Linked DNA regions of Homo sapiens: all the other regions are linked to region 1. The links come from fine-mapping of genetic effects on gene expression. A gene starts in region 1. Each other region holds a variant in brackets. All regions are shown on one strand. Distances are between the middles of the regions.

Region 1 (5,000 bases):
CCCTAGAAGCACCGCGTTCAGTGTGCAAGGTGCAAGAGTATAGCCAAGCGCTTTTCAATTTGGGTAAAGGGCGCTCCATCTGGATCATCCTTGAGGAACATCCTCGTGTTCATCCATGCTGTTTCCAGTCCTCCCCAGCATTCCGGCTCCTTTCACACCTGCATCTTTCAGACGCTCGCTCTTTCCTGCCCTCCGTTTCTTCTGCTTAATTGTGAGATTTGCTTCCCAGCACAAATTTTTACTTCAACTCTTTCCCCTGTTGCTTATGAGTTTTATGGTGATTTCATTTTATAATTTTAAGCAGAAATCGCTTATCATATTTTCTTAGATAATTTAATTGAGATTTTAAACTTTAGTTAGATTACAGTTACCTACAATGCCTTGAGAATATAGTTTTTAAAAGTGGCACATATGCTTTATCCCAATAGTATTCTATCTATGATTAATATGCACACATCTATCATTGTATTTTGTATAAACTATATTAGTATGACATTTAGTTTGTGTAAAAATATGCATGCATATTTCATAGATAGCGTATGTATATTACATAAGTGGGACCCTAACTGCATCTATATTTAGTGAAATGTCAGGATCGCGATGCTGCGGTGAATAGCATGAGCTTTCTTTCATGTCCATGTTAGGAGAGGCAGCTTCCTCCCATCAAAAGCACAGCTGGGGCAGAGGAGGGGGTTGAGAGCAAGGTTTTCTATCTATCTAATTGTGGTGACTTTTAAAGTTTAGTTTTATGGCTCTGTTGCCTCTGTCTTCAAAGTCAAATGGAGCAGCTGAAGCTCTCCCCACCCCAGACCCACCTGCCTGGCCTCTCCCATGCAGCAAGTTTCGCTTAGCTGTTGCAATCCTGGTTTTACTTGGTTTTGTATTTGCTATTTTTTAAAGTGTTTTTAAACTCATGTTTCTTCATAGTAAAGGGTAACTACTGTGGAGTAAACAGAAGATGAGCGTGGTACAAATTTTGGTTAAACCAAAAACTACACACTGGATTGAAAGCTTGGGGAAGGGAGGCAGGTGGAAGGGACTGAAGGAGGTCTCTTCCCAGGAGACTTGTTCACCGGCATCCAGTATTCTCCCCCGCAGTTAGGGAAACAGAGGGAGCATGCAGTTTCAGGCCCAGGCAGGCCTCTCTCTGGGCTTGGGGCAATGCCAGGGCTGGGGGCGAGCCTGCAGTCAGCCTTGTGAGTGGCAGCCGAGGCTGTTATTTTGAAACCCTAAGTGGAAACAGGCATGGAAACCCGGAAGGAGCAGGGAGCCTTAGGCAGTCCTGGGAGATGAAGCCAACGCCCTACCTCCATGTGGAAGGAGGCGGCGGAATGGGCAGGGTCGGGTCTCACAGGTTCCCCCCTCTGGAGTTGGGGTTTCCCGGCCCACGTTCACTCTCTGGATGTGATAGGTCCTTCCCGGCCGGGAAGGGCTGGAAGGGGCGCGCAAGGAGGACGTGGGGACGAGACGAGAGAGACGCGTGCCCAGCAACTCCAGAAGGACGGAGAGGAGTGCAGAAGGGAGCCGGGGAGGACGCGGGAGGGCCGGGAGGGGAAGAGAAGCCAGGCCGGGCCTGGAGCGGAGGAGCGGAGCCCGCTGGTGCGGGTGTCCACACAGGGGCGCTGGAGCGCGCCTTCCTGCGGCTGGGCAGGAGGCAAGCCCGAGAGCGCGCGGCGAGTGGAGCCATGTCGCCCTCCCTCGCTCTCGGCGGGCACAGTGAGGCGCAGGCTTTGGAAAAGTTGCGGGCAGCCGGAGAGCCGAGCCTCCGCCTGCGTTCATGATAATGAGAATGGAGTCGCGGTCACAGCCGGGCTCTCTGCGGGGCGCATCGCCCGCGAGGGGCGCCTGGGCCTCTGGGCGTCCTCTGCCGCCCCGCGACCTTTCCTGCCCTCCTCCGGAGAGAGGCGAAGGGAAGGGGCGGTTTCGGAGGGAGCTGGGCTGTGGAGGGAGGGCGGCCTCTTCACCAGCGTCGTCCGACCACCCCGCGCCCTCCTGGTGGCTCTCCCACGCCCCATTCGCACCCCAGGTCCTCGGGGTGTCTCTGGTGTTGCTTCAAGTTAGGCAAGAGGAGCTGGGGGCGCGGGGAGCCCGGCGCCGCAGCGCGTGCGTGGCTGGGGCGCCCCGGGGCCGGCTGCACCTTCAGTCGCCCCCTGGCCGGCCTGCCTGCCTCGACCTCCGCATCCCCTTGCACCGTCCGCTCGCGTGCTGCGGGGCACTCGCAGCACTACCTTCGGTGGGGCCGCAGCACCCTGAGCTCCCGGGACTCCCCCACCGCCCCCGCACCCACGACCCGCGTGGTCCCAGCCCCTCCACCCTCTTCACGCACCCTCGCACCCTTTTGTGCGACCCCGTGCCCTCTCCGGGCTGCCAACCCCTGCCACCCAGGTGCCAGTCCCGGGCGCGGGGAGGAGGCCGGTGGGGAAGGGGGCGGAGGGGCCGGGGTGGAGGAGGAGCTGCGCGAGGGGCCTGGGGGCGGGGAGCGAGGAGAGCGCTCGGAATGTGTGCCGGTCTCTAGGTGGTGCCAAATTCTGGGGCCTAGGCATTTCCCTCGCTTTATGTTTTTGGTTTTTTTTCTTCCTTCAATCTCTTTGATTAGGCCGTACGTGGCTGTGGCAAGGAGTTGGGGAAAAAAATTATAAAAACAGGAAAGAGAGAAAGCACAGCCAGAGCCCCGGCTTCGCGAGCCGCCGGGGAGGGGGCGGAGGAGGCTGAGCCAGGCAGAGTCGCCAGCGGAGACTCGCGAGTGGCGCGCGGGAGGAGCGGCCGCCGGCGCTGGGCTTGCCTTGCTGCTGCTGCTGCTGCTGCCTCCCCACCGCCTTTTTTTTTTTTTAATCTGGAGCGGGGTGGGGAGTGGGAACCGGAGAGAAAGCAAAATATTAAAAAGCCCCAAAGACAGCCAGCAGGAGCGCGGTGCCCGATGGCTTCGCTGTACCAGAGGTTCACTGGCAAGATCAACACCTCGAGGTCCTTCCCCGCGCCCCCGGAGGCGAGTCACCTCCTGGGCGGCCAGGGGCCCGAGGAGGACGGCGGCGCAGGAGCCAAGCCCCTCGGCCCGCGGGCGCAGGCGGCGGCGCCCCGGGAGCGCGGCGGCGGCGGCGGCGGCGCGGGTGGCCGGCCCCGGTTCCAGTACCAGGCGCGGAGCGATGGTGACGAGGAGGACGTAAGAGCTTCTCGGGGGCGGGGGGCGGCGGCGGGTTCTCCGGGCTGAGCGCGCAGCGAGACGCGTCGGCAGGGGAAATTTTTTTTGGGGGGGGAATCAGGCGCCCTCCCCCCGCCCACGACTCTCCGGGCGCCCCCAGACAGGCTCCGTGGCGCCAGATCGCGGTCACCGCGTCCCGGAGGGAGCGGGTCTGTGTCTGCAGCCGCGGCGGCCGGGAGTTGGTGGCTGGAGAGAGCGGGGTTTGGGTACTGCGCCTGCTGGGATCTGGAATTCGCCTTACGTTCCCTGGGTGCGCGGATGTCTGTTTTTAACAGCATGCTGCTATGGTTCCTAAGGAGAGAATTCGATCGGCCTGTGCTTACGAGTTGGTTTATTTTTTATTTATTTCGTGCTCCGGGAACACAGCCTCAGGCACCTTCTCTCCCTCCCACCTGTGTCTGGAATCTCTCCATCGTGCCCCTCCTCTCCTACTCACTCTGTCCCTTGACTCAAATGCCTCTCCTTCGTTCCTCTTCTTACTTCTCCTAGACACTTTTTCCCCCCAGCGGTGGTGATGGTGATTATCCTTTCCGGAAAAAAAAAATACCAAAATACTGGCATCTGAGCCCCAACCCTCTGTCCCAGGGCCCAGCTCTTTTGCTGAGAGCCCTCAGGCCGTGTCTGTCTCCCCTCCCAGCCCTGGACTAGCACCTCTGCCTTAGACCGTGTTCAGTGAAAACTTCTCCGAGAGCACATTTCCTACTCTTCATGGGGGCTGGAAGCCTGGGTTTCAAAGGTTGGATTTGCACATCGCCCTAGTAACCAATGACTCATGCAGGACAGGAGCCGGACCTTAGATGGATGCGTTTAACCACCTCCTGTGGATCCCTTTCAAGGATGCAGAGGGCTGCTAGGACTTAGAAGGGAGGAAACTGTGCTTTTTCTTTGAGGCCTTCTTTTCCCAGGGAAAAGAGAAAAATCCCCGACAGGCTCTCAGAGAAACAGGTCTGGCTTGGCTGGTACAGCTCTTATAACAGCTAGGCTGTGTTGGTTTGTAGAAATTACTATGTATGCCTTTGAGGAGTTTCACAACTGCTCAACCTGGGAACCGCAGGGGTCCCACCGGCCTCTCACTTAGTCTACCCTGACATACCCAGGGCAGTACATTGCCGGGCACTGAGTAGGTGGTTTTGGTCATTACCTCTCTGCAGCCTCCAGCCACGCTGGTTCCCTGTTTCGTATTTCTTTAGTGCAAGAGTTGTGTTTGGGTCGAGGGAGGGGTGAGACATTGAGTGATTTCCCAGGGACAATTCCTAATTGCCAGATACTATGAAATCAGTGAGGTTTTGCTGTTGTTATTGGTAGTTTTTGTTTTATGAATGAAGGATGTGGAAACTTTAATGGAGATCACAAAACTTTGTGGGAGATGTGGTTTGCACACACACAGGTACACACCCCCTACAGCCCTGCGTCAGATTTTGCATGAGGTTTTGTGATTTTCTCCTGCATCGTTTCCAGACTCCCCTGGTTAAATAGTCATTCAAAGGCATGTCCCTCACTTTGGTGGGCCAAGCCCTGAGGGAAATAGACAGATCCTTCAGTCATCTGGTTCAAGTCTTTGGCAAATGGTTTAATTGGGGGAGGGTGAAGAGTTCTGGAGGATTAAACTACCGAGAATCTTGGGGAAGACAGTTAAGCTGCAATGCAAACAGGAAAAATGTACTTTTTACCTTAAATCTGACTTAAAATTGTTGAATTGTGGATGTTTGGAATGAGAACAATGTGCAGTTTTTTTCTCAACAGGCTCTAGGTGTCGCTAGGAGAAAGGAAAGGCAAGAGCTCTGAATTTTATTTCAGATGA
Region 2 (5,000 bases), 380 kb after region 1:
TAAAGTGCAGACTATGTTTCTATAGTTTCAGGTAGAAATTATTTGGAAATGTACCATGCTGCTGTAAAACAAACAAAAAGCCACCCTAAGCCCGTATTTTCTCCTTTTGTGACACTGCAGAGTTATAGTTTCCACACAGATATCGTGCCTGCAGGGCCTTTAGAAGCATGTGGCTGCTGGCTTTCACCCTGAAGGTCCAGACTGCTGGACTCTTCAGCCGCCGCTTCACCCTTCCCTCTCTGCTTGCTGCTGGCTTTGGGGTTGGGATCTGCTTCCCACTCTCCTGCATCTGACGTGCTCTTCCATTTTTCTCCCAGTCCATCATGGTAAATTCTTGTCTTCATATTCCTTCTCTTCTCCCACCTTTGTTTCTGAGCTGCTCACCTGAGCTGTGGGAGTGCAACTGGGATCATCAGCATTTTCCAATCAAAGTGCTCTTATCTTCTGATCAGCAAAATAACCCATCACAGAAATGACTGAATTAATGACTCTCTAGACAGTTGAGTCTCTTCCACGTTTTTGATCAGGGCCTGCTCATACTCAGACATTTCTTGTTTGTTGTTGTTGCTTTTATGTTCATGGCTGTTCCCAAGCAGAGAGAATTTATTTTATTCTATTTTTATTTTTATTTTTTGAGATGGAGTCTCGCTCTGGTCACCCAGGCTAAAGTGCAGTGGTGCAATCTCGGCTCACTGCAACCTCTGCCTCCCAGGTTCTCAAGCAATTCTCCTGCCTCAGCCTCCCAAGTAGCTGGGATTACAGGCACACGCCCTTATGCCCCATTACTTTTTGTATTTTTAGTAGAGATAGTGTTTCACCATGTTGGCCAGGCTGGTGTTGAACTCCTGACCTCAGGTGATCCACCTGTCTCAGCCTCCCAAAGTGCTGGAATTACAGGCATGAGCCACCATTCCTGGCTGAGAATTTCATTTAAATTGTGGATTACTAGGCATTAATTATGTTTGTGTGAGAGAGAGTGGCAGAGGGACATTGAAAGAGCAACAGGGACAGAGAGACAGAGAGAGAACAAGGAGAAGGAGGACGAGAGAGAAAGAAAGAGGGAGGAATGGGAGGGGGTACTGAGAGATCACACCAAATTCATTGCACGTTCCTGTGAGTTGCTGCCACACGCTGCACTGGGCCAACGCTTTCCCACCAGTTTCACTAGTGGAGATGACCTCATCGGATCCTCTTTGCCATCTTCTGTGAGGTTGGAACCATGCAGAGTCCTGCATTTTCCTCCATCTACCCCTAAGTCCTTGTGTTAATTATGATCTGTGTTGGCTTTTATCACCTTTGTGGAAAGAGAAGAGCCACCAATAATGAAGACTGAGTAAATGAGCCAGTGAAACAGAGACGGGGATGTGCACCCCCCAGGCTCCTGGATGATTATTGACGGACACGTGTCAGCTGCTAAATGTTATTTAAAACTTGTTCTTGCCATCCTATCATCATTTGCTGTCCTCCTGAATATGGAAATACAATGATTAGAAGGCTGTTTTACCATCCTGAGATATGTGCACCATTGATTTTGTAATTTGTTGCTACCTTCTACTTATAGTAAATGGTCCATGATACATAAAAGAAATTTATGTCAGAGCTTTTCACAGTGAATAAATATTAGGAAGAAAATACATTTAGACAATAGAAGGAAGCAGTGTAATGGGAGATCCTGCAGTCATGTATGTGTCGTTTATTTTCTCCCAATATTTTTTATAGTAGCTGTGTGAATATCTTACTTTTTACGGTGCTCAATTCCACATTGGCCTGATATTTGACATATTTTAAGGCACAGTGGGAGAAGGAACCAATCCTGACCTTTCTCTAGGCACTTTTCTGATGTCAGTAGATGAACTGAATAATTAATATCTGACTTCTTCTGGAACTTATTTGAGGTGGCTTACAGAATCCTCCCCTGGCTTCCTATTGTGTTTTGGATAAAAGGCAAGACCAGTGGCACGGTCCACGAGGCTGGGCCTGGTTTTCTTTGTGCCTGTCTGTCCAGCTTCATCTCGGATGCTTCACGCCTCACTCCTGACATGTAGCCACACATGCACCAGGTTACAACCGCTCCATTGCATGGGAAACCTGCCCCAGCTGGTCACCACCTCCTTCCTGTATACTCTTCAACTCTCAGCTCAAATTCTCTTCCTCAGAGCACCCTTGCTTGCCCCAACACCTCAGTAAAAATCAGCACATGCCCCATCATTATACGCCCTCTTGACACATGGAATTCCTGCCCACTGCCCCACCTCACAGTGTCACTGGGTTTGCCTGAGGTCTCTCCCACCGCGTGCAAGTGTAGGGATGTCTCTTCAGTTCAGCACGTTAGGCCAATGCTCACTGTCACAACATTGGTATCCAGTACACGTGGTTAACCATTGCTATTGTGAAATATTATAATGCAAAAACTATGGAACATGTAAACTCACAGCTTAATGGGTGAGTGTAACCTGAATTTCCTAATGTGAAATAGCCCATTCAGGTCTAGAAACAGAGGACAGCCAGTACCCCGCAGCTCCTGTACCTTGACTTCCTCTTTCCAGTGGCAACTTCTCTCTCCCCGTTGAGTTATGCAGCATCCTGGATTTCATGGAAATGTCTTTCTGGCTTGTCTTCATGAACTTACGTGTGAACCACTCACTTAGTGTAGTTTGCCCACTGTGGAACTTTTTACAAAAAGAAATATTCATCTTATATTCTTTACTGTCTGATCTATGTCACTTAAAATTATATTTGTGAGGTTCATTC[A/G]TGCTGTGCATGTAGTCAGAGGTTGTGATTTGCATGGCTATATGGCATTCTGTTACATGGAATACACCACTCTGGTAGACAGACCAATGACACCCCATGAAGATGTCCGTATCCCATTCCCTGGTACCTGTGACTATGTTAGCTTCCCTGACAAAGGAGACTAAGGTTACAGGTGAATAAAGATAGTAAGATTACTCATCAATTGCCTCTCTGCAGCCAATCATTTCTCTGATGCTATTTGTTTTTCCATTATACTGGATTATGTGAAAATTCTGATACTAGGCTAATAGCTGTTTAACATGGATCTAATGAATAGATTCCATTCTAGGCCAGCTATAGTTTAAAAATACTACAGCTTTCTTTTTGAGTAATTTGATACCTAAAATAGTGAAGACCTCAGGAAGAGCCCATCCTCTTTGAGACCCGTGAACATTCTGCCGTGCCAACTGTCTTGGCTGGCATTTGCTTCCCCTTAAATTAGCTTCCTCCTGTCACAGAGGGGCCCATACTACAAGGCTGGTGGATGATGACAAATTTGATTCTTGAAAATCTGTTAAGGTAATTGCAAAATTCCACTCAGTTTCCCTGGGAAAATAACTCTACCTGCTAGTAGAATCACCAGCCTTTTCAAAGAAAATGTATACATCAAATTAGCAAATTAGTTATTTTAAAATTGTAAACCAAAGGCCAGGTGTGGTGGTTCATGCCTGTAATTCCAGCACTTTGAGAGGCTGAGGTGGGCGGATCCCTTGAGTCCAGGAGTTCAAGATCAGCCTGGCCAACATGGCGAAACCCAGTCTCTGCTAAAAATACAAAAATTAGCTGGACACGGTGGTGGACGCCTGTAATCCGTGTTACTTGGGAGGCTGAGGCAGGGAGAAATGTTTGAACCCAGGAGGCAGAGATTGTAGTGAGCCAAGATCACGCCACTGCACTCCAGCCTGGATGACAGTGAGACTCCATCTGAAAAAATAACATAAAAATAAAATAAAACTAAATTAAATTGTAAACCAAGAGTGTTGTTGGAATTTCCACCTAGTCTTCGAGTGTAAGTGTAGCTAGAATATGCCGCAGACACAGGAGCATACCCCTCAGGAACCAGGGAGCAGGCGCTGGATGAAGCATCAATGCTTGCTGTACATTCGGCTTTTGTTTTTGAGTTTCAGAAACCCACTCAAATTAGTTTAAGTAAAATGGAAAATGAAATATCTCCTAAAGGCTGGGCACTGTGGCAAATGCCTGTAATCCCAGAACTTTGGGAGGCCAAGGAGGGTGGATCACAAGGTCAGGAGATCGAGACCATCCTGGCTGACACGGTGAAACCCCGTCTCGACTAAAAAAATACAAAAAAATTAGCCGGGCGTGGTGGCGGGAGCCTGTAGTCCCAGCTACTCAGGAGGCTGAGTCAGGAGAACGGCGTGAACCCAGGAGGCGGAGCTTGCAGTGAGTCGAGATAGCACCACTGCACTCCAGCCTGGGTGACAGAGTGAGACTCCAACTCAAAAAAAAAAAAAAAAAAAAAAAAAAAAGAAAAGAAAAAAAGAAATATCTCCTAAAGTAACAGGAGTGCATTATTAAATCCAAGGGAAAAATGCATCCAGGCCTCAGGAGGAAAAGTACATCAAAAATGGAAAGCCAAGAGGAGCTCATTCTGTCTCTTTGAGCTTCTTACCTTTTTGCCTTTGTCTCTTTGCTTTTCATTCTCTTTGGTTCTGAACCTCTCTACTTCATTCCTCTCATTCTGTAAATCTGCTTTATTTCCTTTGGAATCTTTACACCATATGGCAGCAGGCACTTAACTTCCCTCCCCACCTTCCGTTCTCATGGTTTGTGACAGCAGCCAAGAACGACTTGGAATATTTTAATCTCACACCACAAATCCTGGAGCAGACTTTTGACCTAGGTTAGGCCAATTAATTGTCTCTGGCTGAGGAGGAGAGGAGGGGGCTCACAGACTAGAAATGTGGCTTCCAGGGCCCATGGGTGGAGGAGGAGGGCAGCTCCGATCATTCTGACTGGGATGCTCTTCACAATGCCTCTGTACCGTGCTGGAACATTGTACCAGGGTGGCAAGCCCTTTTTAAAAAGTGAGCTCCAATTACTTTAGTCTCTGCCATTCAATTGCTGGTGGTTCTTGCCTTTGAGGCTAGTTTGTTAGTTACTTAATATTTATTGAGTGCCTGCAGGGATTTTTGACATTGAGAAGTGATGTGTTGAGCGTGCCAAAAATCTACCCAGTATAGAAAACT
Region 3 (10,482 bases), 820 kb before region 1:
CTTCTTTTGAGAAGTGTCTGTTCATATCCTTTGCCCACTTTTTGATGGGGTTGTTTTTTTCTTGTAAATTTAAGTTCCTTGTAGATTCTAGATATTAGCCCTTCATCAGATGGATAGATTGCAAAAATTTTCTTCCATTCTTTAGGTTGCCTGTACTCTCTGGTGATAGTTTCTTTTGCTGTGCAGAAGCTCTTTAGTTTAATTAGATCCCATTTGTCAATTTTGGCTTTTGTTGTCCTTGCTTTTGGTGTTTTAGTCACAAAGTCTTTGCCCATGCCTATGTCCTGAATGGTATTGCCTAGGTTTTCTTCTAGGGTTTTTATGGCTTTAGGTCTTACATTTAAGTCTTTAATCCATCTTGAGTTAATTTTTGTATAAGGTGTAAGGAAGGGGTCCAGTTACAGTTTTCTGTATATGGCTAGCCAGTTTTCCCAACACCATTTATTAAATAGGGAATCCTTTCCCTATTGCTTATTTTTGTCAGGTTTATCAAAGATCAGGTGGTTGTAGATGTGTGGCGTTATTTCTGAGGCCTGTGTTCTGTTCCATTGGTCTGTATATCTGTTTTGGTACCAGTACCATGCTGTTTTGGTTACTGTAGACTTGTAGTATAGTTTGAAGTCAGGTAGCGTGATGCCTCCAGCTTTATTCTTTTTGCTTAGGATTGTCTTGGCTATACAGGCTCTTTTTTGGTTCCATATAAAATTTAAAGTAGTTTTTTCCTAATTCTGTGAATAAAGTCAATGGTAGCTTGATGGGGATAGCATTGAGTCAGTAAATTACTTTGGGCAGTATGGCCATTTTCACGATATCAATTTATCCTATCCATGAGCATGGATTGTTTTTCTATTTGTTTGTGTCTTCTCTTATTTCCTTGAGCAGTGGTTTGTAGTTCTCCTTGAAGAGGTCCCTCACATTGCTTGTAAATTGTATTCCTAGGTATTTTATTCTCTTTGTAGCAATTGTGAATGGGAGTTCACTCATGATTTGGCTCTTTGTTTGTCTATTATTGGTCTAGGAATGCTAGTGATTTTCACACATTGATTTTGTATCCTGAGACTTTGCTGAAGTTACCTATCAGCTTAAGGAGATTTGGGGCTGAGATGATGGGATTTTCTAAATACACAATCATGTCATCTGCAAACAGAGACAGTTGGACTTCCTCTCTTCCTATTCGAATACCCTTTATTTCTTTCTCTTGCTTAATTGCCCTGGACCGAACTTCCCATACTATGTTGGATAGGAATGGTGAGAGAGGGCATCCTTGTCTTGTGCCAGTTTTCAAAGGGAATACTTCCAGCTTTTGCCCATTCAGTATGATATTGGCTGTGGGTTTGTCATAAATAGCTCTTATTATTTTGAGATAGGTTCCATCAATACCTAGTTTATTGAGAGTTTTTAGCATGAAGAGATGTTGAATTGTATCAAAGGCCTTTTCTGCATCTGTTGAGATAATCATGTGGTTTTTGTCATTGGTTCTGTTTATATGATGGATTATGTTTATTGATTTGTGTATGTTGAACCATCCTTGCATGCCAGGGATGAAACCGATTTGATAGTGGTGGGTAAGCTTTTTGATGTGCTGCCGGATTCACTTTGCCAGTATTTTATTGAGGATTTTTGCATTGATGTTCATCAGGGATATTGGCCCAAAATTTTCTTTTTTTGTTGTATCTCTGACAGGTTTTGGTATCAGGATGATGTTGGCCTCATAAAATGCATTAGGAAGGAGGCCCTCTTTTTCTATTTTTTGGAATAGTTTCAGAAGGAATGGTACTAGCTCCTCTTTCTACCTTTGGTAGAATTCAGCTGTGAATCCGTCTGGTCCTGGGCTTTTTTTTTTTGGTTGGCAGGTTGTTAATTACTGCCTCAATTTCAGAACTTGTTATTGGCCTATTCAGGGATTCAATTTCTTCTTGGTTTAGACTTGGGAGGGTGTGTGTGTCCAGGAATTTATTCATTTCTTCTAGATTTTCTAGTTTATTTGCATAGAGGTGTTTATAGTATTTTCTGATGATAGTTTGCATTTCTGTGGGATCAGTGGTGAAATCCCCTTTATCATTTTTATTGTGTCCATTTGATTCTTCCCTCTTTTCTTCTTTATTAGTCTGGCTAGCAGTCTATCTATTTTGTTAATCTTTTCAAAAAAGCAGCTCTTGGATTCATTGATTTTTTGAGGGTTTTTTTTGTGTCTCTATCTCCTTCAGTTCTGCTCTGATCTTAGTTATTTCTTGTTTTCTGCTGGCTTTTGAATTTGTTTGTTCTTGCTTCTCTAGTTCTTTTAATTGTGATGTTAGGGTGTCAATTTTATCTTTCCTGCTTTCTCCTGTGGGTATTTAGTGCTATAAATTTCTCTGTAAACACTACTTTAGCTGTTTCCCAGAGGTTCTGGTACATTGTGTCTTTGTTCTCACTTGTTTCAAGGAATTATTTATGTCTACCTTAATTTTGTTATTTACCCAATAGTCTTTCAGGAGCAGATTGTTTAGTTTCCATGTAATTGTGCGGTTTTGAGTGAGTTTCTTAATCCTGAGTTCTAATTTGATTGCACTGTGGTCTGAGAGACTGTTTGTTATGATTTCTGTTCTTTTGCCTTTGCTGAGGAGTGTTTTACTTCCAATTATATGGTCAAGTTTAGAATAAGTGTGATGTGGTGCTGAGAATAACGTATATTCTGTTGATTTTGGGTGGAGAGTTCTGTAGATGTCTGTTAGGTCCTCTTGGTCCAGAGCTGAGTTCAAATCCTGAATATCCTTGTTAATTTTCTGTCTCATTGATCTGTCTAATATTGACATGGGGTGTTAAAGTCTCCCACTATTATTGTGTGGGAGTCTAAGTCTCTTTGTAGGTCTCTAGGAACTTGCTTGATGAATCTGGGTGCATGTATATTTAGGATAGTTAGCTCTTCTTGTTGCATTGATCCGTTTATCATTATGTAATGCCCTTCTTTGTCTTTTTTGATCTTTGTTGGTTTAAAGTCTGTTTTATCAGGGACTAGGATTAGAACCCCTGCTTTTTTTTTTTTTTTTTTTTTTGGCTTTCCATTTGCTTGGTAAATATTCCTCCATCCCTTTATTTTGAGCGTATGTGTGTCTTTGCATGTGAGATTGGTCTCCTGAATACAGCACACCAATGGGTCTTGCCTCTTTATCCAATTTGCCAGTCTGTGTCTTTTAATTGGGGCATTTAGCCCATTTTTATTTAAGGTTAGTACTGTTATGTGTGAATTTGATCCTGTCATTATGATGCTAGCTGGTTATTTTGCCCATTAGTTGATGCAGTTTCTTCATAGTGTCGATGGTCTTTGCAATTTGGTATCTTTAGTGGCGGGTACTGGTTTTTCCTTTCCATGTTTAATGCTTCCTTCAGGAGCTCTTGTAAGGCAGGCCTGGTGGTGACAAAATCTCTCAGCATTTGCTTGTCTGTAAAGGATTTTATTTCTCCTTCACTTCTAAGGCTTAGTTTGGCTGGATATGAAATTCTGGGTTGAAAATTCTTTTCTTTAAGAATGTTGAATATTGGCCCTCATTCTCTTCTGGCTTGTGCAGTTTCTGCAGAGAGATCCACTGTTAGTCTGATAGGCTTCCCTTTGTGGGTAACCTGATGTTTCTCTCTGGCTGCTCTTAACATTTTTTTCCTTCATTTCACCCTTGGCGAATCTGATGATTATGTGTCTTGGGGTTGCTCTCCTTGTGGAGTATCTTTGTGGTGTTCTCTGTACTTCCTGAATTTGAATGTTGGCCTGTCTTGCTAGGTTGGGGAATTTCTCCAGGATAATATCCTGATGAGTGTTTTCCAACTTGGTTCCAATCTCCCTGTCACTTTCAGGTCCACTAATCAAATGTAGGTTTGGACTTTTCACACAGTCCCGTATTTCTTGGAGGCTTTTTCATTCTTTTTTCTCTAATCTTGTCTTCACACTTTATTTCATTAAGTTGATCTTCAGTCTCTGATATCCTTTCCTCCACTTGATGAATTTGGCTATTGATACTTGTGTGTGCTTCATGAAGTCCTTGTGCTGTATTTTTCAGCTCCATGAGGTCATTTATGTCCTTCTCTAAACTGGTTATTCTAGTTAGCAGTTCCTGTAACCTTTTATCAAGGTTCTTAGCTTCCTTGTATTGGGTTAGAACGTGATCCTTTAGCTTGGAGGAGTTTGTTATTACCTACCTTCTGAAGCCTACTTCTGTCAATTCGTCAAACTCATTCTCCATCCAGTTTTGTTCCCTTGCTGGCAAGGAGTTGTGATCTTTTAGAGGAGAAGAAGTATTCTGGTTTGGGGAATTTTCAGCCTTTTTGCGCTGTTTTTTCCCTATCTTGTGGATTTATCTATTTTTGGTCTTTGATGCTGGTGACCTTTGGGTGGGGTTTTTGTGTGGACATTCTTTTTGTTGATGTTGATGCTATTCCTTTCTGTTAGTTTTCCTTCTAAAAGTCAGGCTCCTCTGCTGCAGGTCTGCTGGAGTTTGCTGGAGGTCCACTCCAGATCTGGTTTTCCTGGGTATCACCAGCGGAGGCTGCAGAACAGCAAAGATTGCTGCCTGTTCCTTCCTCTGGTAGCTTCATCCCAGAGGGGCACCTGCTAGTTGCCAGCTGGAGCTCTCCTGTATGAGGTGTCTGTCGACCCCTGCTGGGAGGTGTCTTCCAGTCAGGAGTCATGGGGGTCAGGGACCCACTTGAGGAGGCAGTCTGTCCCTTAGCAGAGCTCGAGTGCTGTGCTGGGAGAGCTGCTGCTCTCTTCAGAGCCGGCAGGCACAAACATTTATGTCTGCTGAGGCTGCACCCACAGCTGCCCCTTCCCCTAGGTGCACTGTCCCAGGGAGATGGGACTTTTATCTATAAGCCCCTGACTGGGCTGCTGCCTTTCTTTCAGAGATGCCCTGACCAGAGAGAAGAAATATAGAGAGGCAGTCTGGCTACAGTGGCTTTGCTGAGCTGTGGTGGGCTCCGCCCAGTTTGAACTTCCCTGCGGCTTTGTTTACACTGTGAGGGGGAAAATGCCTACTCAAGCCTCAGTAATGGTGGACGCCCCTCCACCCACCAAGCTCGAGTGTCTCTGGTCAAATTCAGAGTGCTGGATCTTCAGACTGGATCTTCAGACTGCCAGTGGATCTTAGTTTGCTGGGCTCTGTGGGGATGGGATCTGCTGAGCTAGACCACTTGGGTCCCTGGCTTCAGCCCTTTATCCAGAGGAGTGAACAGTTCTGTCTCACTGGCATTCCAGGTACCACTGGGGTATGAAAAAAAACTCCTGCAGCTAGCTTGGTGTCTGCCTAAATGGCTGCCCAGTTTTGTGCTTGAAACCCAGGGCCCTGATGGTGTAGCCACCAGAGGGAATCTCCTGGTCTGCGGGTTGTGAATACCATAGGAAAACCATAGCATCTGCACCTGATAGCACTGTTCCTCATGGCAC[A/G]GTCCCTCAGGGCTTCCCTTGGCTAGGGGAGGGAGTTCCCGACTCCTTGCACTTCCCAGGTGAGGCGATGCCCCACCCTGCTTCAGCTCACCCTCTGTGGGCTGCTCCTACTGTCTAACCAGTCCCAATGAGATGAGCCGTGTACCTCAGTTGGAAATGCATAAATCACCTGCTTTCTGCATCAGTCTTGCTGGGAGCTGCAGACTGGAGCTGTTCCTATTCAGCTATCGTAAACACATTAATTTTTCACACAGCAAACTGCTCTGTTCCCAGTAAAAATGTCCTAACCTTGTACTACCCTCCAAATGAGCTTGTTAATGAGGAATACAGATGAAAATGTCTCAGTCTCTGAAATCCTGAAGGCCATCTGTATTAACTGTTGTGGCACTACAGTGTAGCCCAAATCTTAGCAGCTTAAAATTATGAACAGGCTTGCTGGGCACGATGGCTCATGCCTATAATCCCAGCACTTTGGGAGGCCCAGGCGGATGGATCACCTGAGGTCAGGAGTTGAAGACCAGCCTGACCAACATGGTGAAACCCTGTCTCTACTAAAAATACAAAAAATTAGTCAGGCGTGGTGGTGGGCACCTGTAATCCCAGCTACTTGGGAGGCTGAGGCAGAAGAATTGCTTGAACTCAGGAGGTGGAGGTTGCAGTGAGCTGAGATTGTGCCATTGCATGCCAGCCTGGGCAACAAGAGCAAAACTCTGTCTCAAAAAAAAAAATTATGAACAGGCTTGACTTAGCTGGGTGGATCTGGCTCAAGGTCTCTCTCGAGGTTGCAGTCAAGCTGTTGGCCAGGGCTATGACCATCGCAATGGGGGATGGAGGTCCTGTGCCCAAGCTCACTTATGTGACTTGGCAGGAGGCTTCATTGCCTCACCATGTGGGCCTTTCCATGGGGCTGCTCATGACACAACTTCCCCTAGAATAGACGATCCAAATGGGCAAGAGAGAGACCTAAATAGAAGTGCAGTTCCTGTCAGCCTGGGAACTCCAGAAGGGAAGGAGTTTGCATTAGTGTCCTTGGGTTCTGGTAACAAAGCAGAACTGAGTGGCTCAACCACAGGAAAAGGTTGTCTTATGGTTCTGCAGGCTGGAGGTCTCAGACAGAAATGTTGGCGGGGGGGTTCCTTCTGGGGACTGTGAGGGAGAATCTGTTTTGTGCCTCTTCCCTATCTTCTAGTGGTTTTCTATCACTGGTGTTTTTTGGCATCTAGATGCATCATCCCAATCTCTGCCTTTATCTTCATATGGCGTTCTCCCTGTGTCATGTCTGTTTCTGTGTCCAGATTTCCCCTTTGTATAAGAACAACAGTTATATTGGATTACGGTTCACCATAATGATCTTATTTTAACTTGATTACCTCAGTAAAGACTTTATTTCCAAATAAGGTCACTTTCCCAGGTCTTGGAGATTGGGACTTCAGCATATTTTGTGGGAGACAAAATTAAGCCCAATAACAGAGTGAAAACCTGAGGTCTGAGATTAGGGTGGGTGAGTAGATGCTCTTGAGAAACTTCAGCATCCAGCATCTCTCGTATTGCTCGTCCTAAAGAAGTGGCCTATTCCATCTTGCTAAAAGATGGCTCCTTGCTTGAAGATTATGCAGAGGTTTCAAAAGAGTCAAGTTTCTTAAAAGACAATGCCTTCCCCTTCAGGGTGTTTCTGGCAGCAATCTAATAACAAGTGTCAAATCCCAGCAGAGCCCAAAGAGGGTCATGCTGAGCTGCCAAGTGAGGAGGAGGCTCATAATCCGAAGTCCTCCAGGGTCTGCTAGCAGGCATGGGAGTTGTCCCAAGGGTGCTGGATCAAGGAGGGGCAGAACATAGAATTGGGTGAAGGAGAGGTTATGGACGTGGAAGCAATACCTTACAATAGAAGATATAACAACTGGCAAGGACCATGGGAATGGGGCTGATATGTTGCCAGGATGGCTCTTGAAATTCTTGAGAAAATCAATGGCCCAGAGTAAGTGAAGCAGAAATGCCAGAGTTGTCATGACAGATGGTAGAAGAAAGGATCAAAAGGACCAGATAATTGCACATACTAAGCCATGATTAACACAGTTTCCTCTCTTAGGTATGCATCTGAGGAGATGGCGAAGACATTTTTAACATCTTTATCAGGTAGGTGGATCAAAAACAGCTTATGTTTATGTGAAAAGCACAACAGTAAATGTTTAGAGTCTTTCTCTGCGGTTATGTTACCTCTCCCACCATCTGTCATTTTATAGTCTGAAGATCCCTGGACCATCTAGGAATTGTCTATGATACTACATGGGTACACTCTATCTATGGCACCATGTTAATCATGCTGGATGAACAAGAAATGGCAAATATGTTAGAGAACTTGATAAGGCATATGTTCACATTCTTCACAGGATGGAAAAATAAATGTTATGAAGGTTCAGGGATCTGTCACAGTCACAAAATTTGTAGGTGTCTGGAAGTCTGGGACTTGCTGGGACATCCCCTCTAAATAAAGGATGAATTGTTGAATCTAGTATTGCCCACAGTCAAGAAAGATGAGAAGAATTTGGCAGGCACCCAGGATTATGGAGTCAACATCTTTGGCACTTGGGAATACTGATTGTACCCATTTAGAGGAGACATGGAGGGTATGCATTTTTAAGTGGAACCTGAGCCCAGGCTGGCATCTACATCGTTTCCAGGCTGCAGCACAGCTGGTCCTTCCATTTTTGTCATTTGACCTGACAGATGTATGACCCTGTAGGTATCAAAAAGGTGGGAAAAGATGCTGTGTGGAACATTTGGCAAGCTTCAACTGGATAATCAGAATGTATCTCTTTAGGATCTACTGGGAGCAAGGACATTACCAACCACAGGAGATAACTATAAAGCATTCCAAAAGTAGCTCCTGTCATGCCCTGTCCTGGGTTCTGCTAGAGGCACAGTGTTTGACCATGGAGCATCAAGTGACCAAGTGACCAGTGCCCCGTCATGAGCTGCATCGGGTCACACCCACAAAGACATAGGCAAGTGAGCCCAGAAGAAATTCATCATAAAACAGAAATGGTGCATGTAGGTTTAGGCAAGAACAAATCCAGCAGGTACAAGTAAGCTACATGAGCAGGTGGCCCAGACCACATATCTTCTATTATTGTGTTGGCACCTCTCCCCCAACTCATCCCTCTAGCCACATTAGCTTAAAGTTGATGCTGCTTATTGGCTGGGAGTCCAACAGGGTGATCAACTGGAGCCCTCACTGTGGCTTCTCCGTGTGGCTTGGGCTTCTCATAGCCTCATGGCTTATTCCAAGAGGGATGATCCCAAGTGCAAACATTCCAGGCCTAGCTGCAAGGTTTCTTATGACCCAGCCTTGAAAGTCATGTGGTATCACTTCGGTAGCACACTACTAACCACAGAAGTCACAGACCTGGCCCAGATTCAGGAGGAGGGGAAATAGACTTTCCCTCTCAATGACATCTCAGTGGGACCAGTAGCAAAAAAATCTGTAGCCATTTTAAATTTACCACAGGTGCTGTTTTCCAGGGCAGCATAGACAGCCTAAATCAATGACTATTATATGACACAGCTGTGTCTTCATTTGGTGTAAGGAATGGAAAATAGAGATGACACCACGTTCTCCATGGCTCTCTTCGACTCACTTGAAATTTCTGCTCTGGTCCCTGCAGTTTCATGCTGTACCTGTTAAGAGGTCCTGGCTTCCAGAAGGAAATTACTTCCACCAGTGGACATGGTAAGAGTCTCATTGAACTTTCAGCTATGGCTGCTGCTTGATCACTTGGTGCCAATAAACCATCCAGAAGAGAAAAGTCACAACCTGCAGGGAAAATTGACTCATTACCAGTGGGAGGTAGGCCTGCTGCCACACAGTGGACATAGGGAAGAATCTCTTTGGTGCTCAGTGATCCCAGTGCTATACTCAAATGAGACAAACTTAATGTAAAAAGCAAGTTGATCTGTGAAGTGGAAGGGATTAACTTTAATGAAGACTGTGGTGCTTTGCCAAGATCCTTTCTTTAGAGATGATTTACCCATAGCCTGGTGGCTGGTGGCTCCCAGGTGCACCCTGTTCTATCATCATTATTCACCATGTTGGTGGAGGAAGAATACCCAACCCCTTCAATCGCACAAGGTAGCTGAACACATGACACCTTGTGCTGGACAGATGTGATCAACAGCAGTTTATTAGTTACATATACCCACAGCCTGCCTGGGGAAGATGACGCCACACACCACGCAGGGCCACACGAGGGATGCACTCAAGAACAGAGTGGACCAGAGGGGCATGGAGGCAGGCTTTGTAGAAACAAGGGGGTGTGGTGGCCCCTGGTGCCTGTGGGAGGATGTTATTGGCTTGTTTGTTTCATGGAGTAGCAGGGGATGGAGACACGTGAGATTGGAGACTGATGGGGGACACTGGTCCAGCCAACGGGAACAAGCAAGGCAGGGAGCAGGGGAACTCATAGGGCTCCTTTGGGGCCTGGAAGCCTCAAAGATGGCAAAATAACACTTGAAATTGTTTCTTCTTCACATTTGCATCCACCTGTGTAGGTGTTTCCAGTATTCAAATCCATCCTAACTAAAGGAAGAATTGTCATTGCAATGAACGCATTCCATAGGTAAATTCTGAGGAGGGCATCCCCAAAATACAATGAACATTGTGTAGTCTCTTAAGGGAACTATAGTCAAATTAAAAAGCCTCAAAATCAAGAGGTGACTTTCTACCATGTCACTTTATAATCAGGAAGGAGATTTAGAAGGAAGAGAAAGATATACGCAGTAGACATAGAATAAAATAATTCATTAAAATCACCTTTATACATTCATTTATGAAGTTCAAAGTTACATGATAGACCGGTGTTGGCAAGTTTTTTTTTTTTAAATACAGAGCTAGATAGTAAATATTTTAGGCTTTGTGGGCCATATGGTCTCTGATGACTCAGCTCTGCTGTTGTGCAAAAGCAGCCATGGATAAATAGTAAACAAATGGGCATGGTTGTCCTTCAATAAGACTTTACCTACACAAGCCGGTGGCAGGCTGGGCTGGGCCCAATGGTGTAGTTTATCAACCCATG

What was found. PIP is the estimated chance that this variant, and not a neighbour inherited with it, causes the effect. A credible set is the group of variants that fine-mapping cannot tell apart.
Region 2: its variant is the best candidate, but not a certain one, in a credible set for the expression of DPP6 in skeletal muscle (GTEx, PIP 0.75).
Region 3: its variant is the best candidate, but not a certain one, in a credible set for the expression of DPP6 in esophagus muscle (GTEx, PIP 0.76).

Annotation. Positions count from the first base shown.
Region 1 is chr7:154,049,904-154,054,903 of GRCh38, forward strand. DPP6 (dipeptidyl peptidase like 6) reads left to right here and starts at 2,495. Exons shown (of 26, transcript NM_130797.4): 1 at 2,495-3,160. The coding sequence starts at 2,918. RefSeq lists an enhancer at 1,386-1,988.
Region 2 is chr7:154,434,218-154,439,217 of GRCh38, forward strand. All of the region lies in intron 1 of DPP6 (dipeptidyl peptidase like 6), which reads left to right. Among named protein-coding and RNA genes, the nearest start is that of DPP6, 380 kb to the left of the region's middle. The variant A/G (reference allele first, on the strand shown) is at 2,752.
Region 3 is chr7:153,229,805-153,240,286 of GRCh38, forward strand. It overlaps LOC102723686 (a long non-coding RNA gene), which reads left to right. Exons shown (of 10, transcript XR_007060599.1): 6 at 7,500-7,546; 7 at 9,076-9,140. Among named protein-coding and RNA genes, the nearest start is that of LINC01287, 180 kb to the right of the region's middle. The variant A/G (reference allele first, on the strand shown) is at 5,414.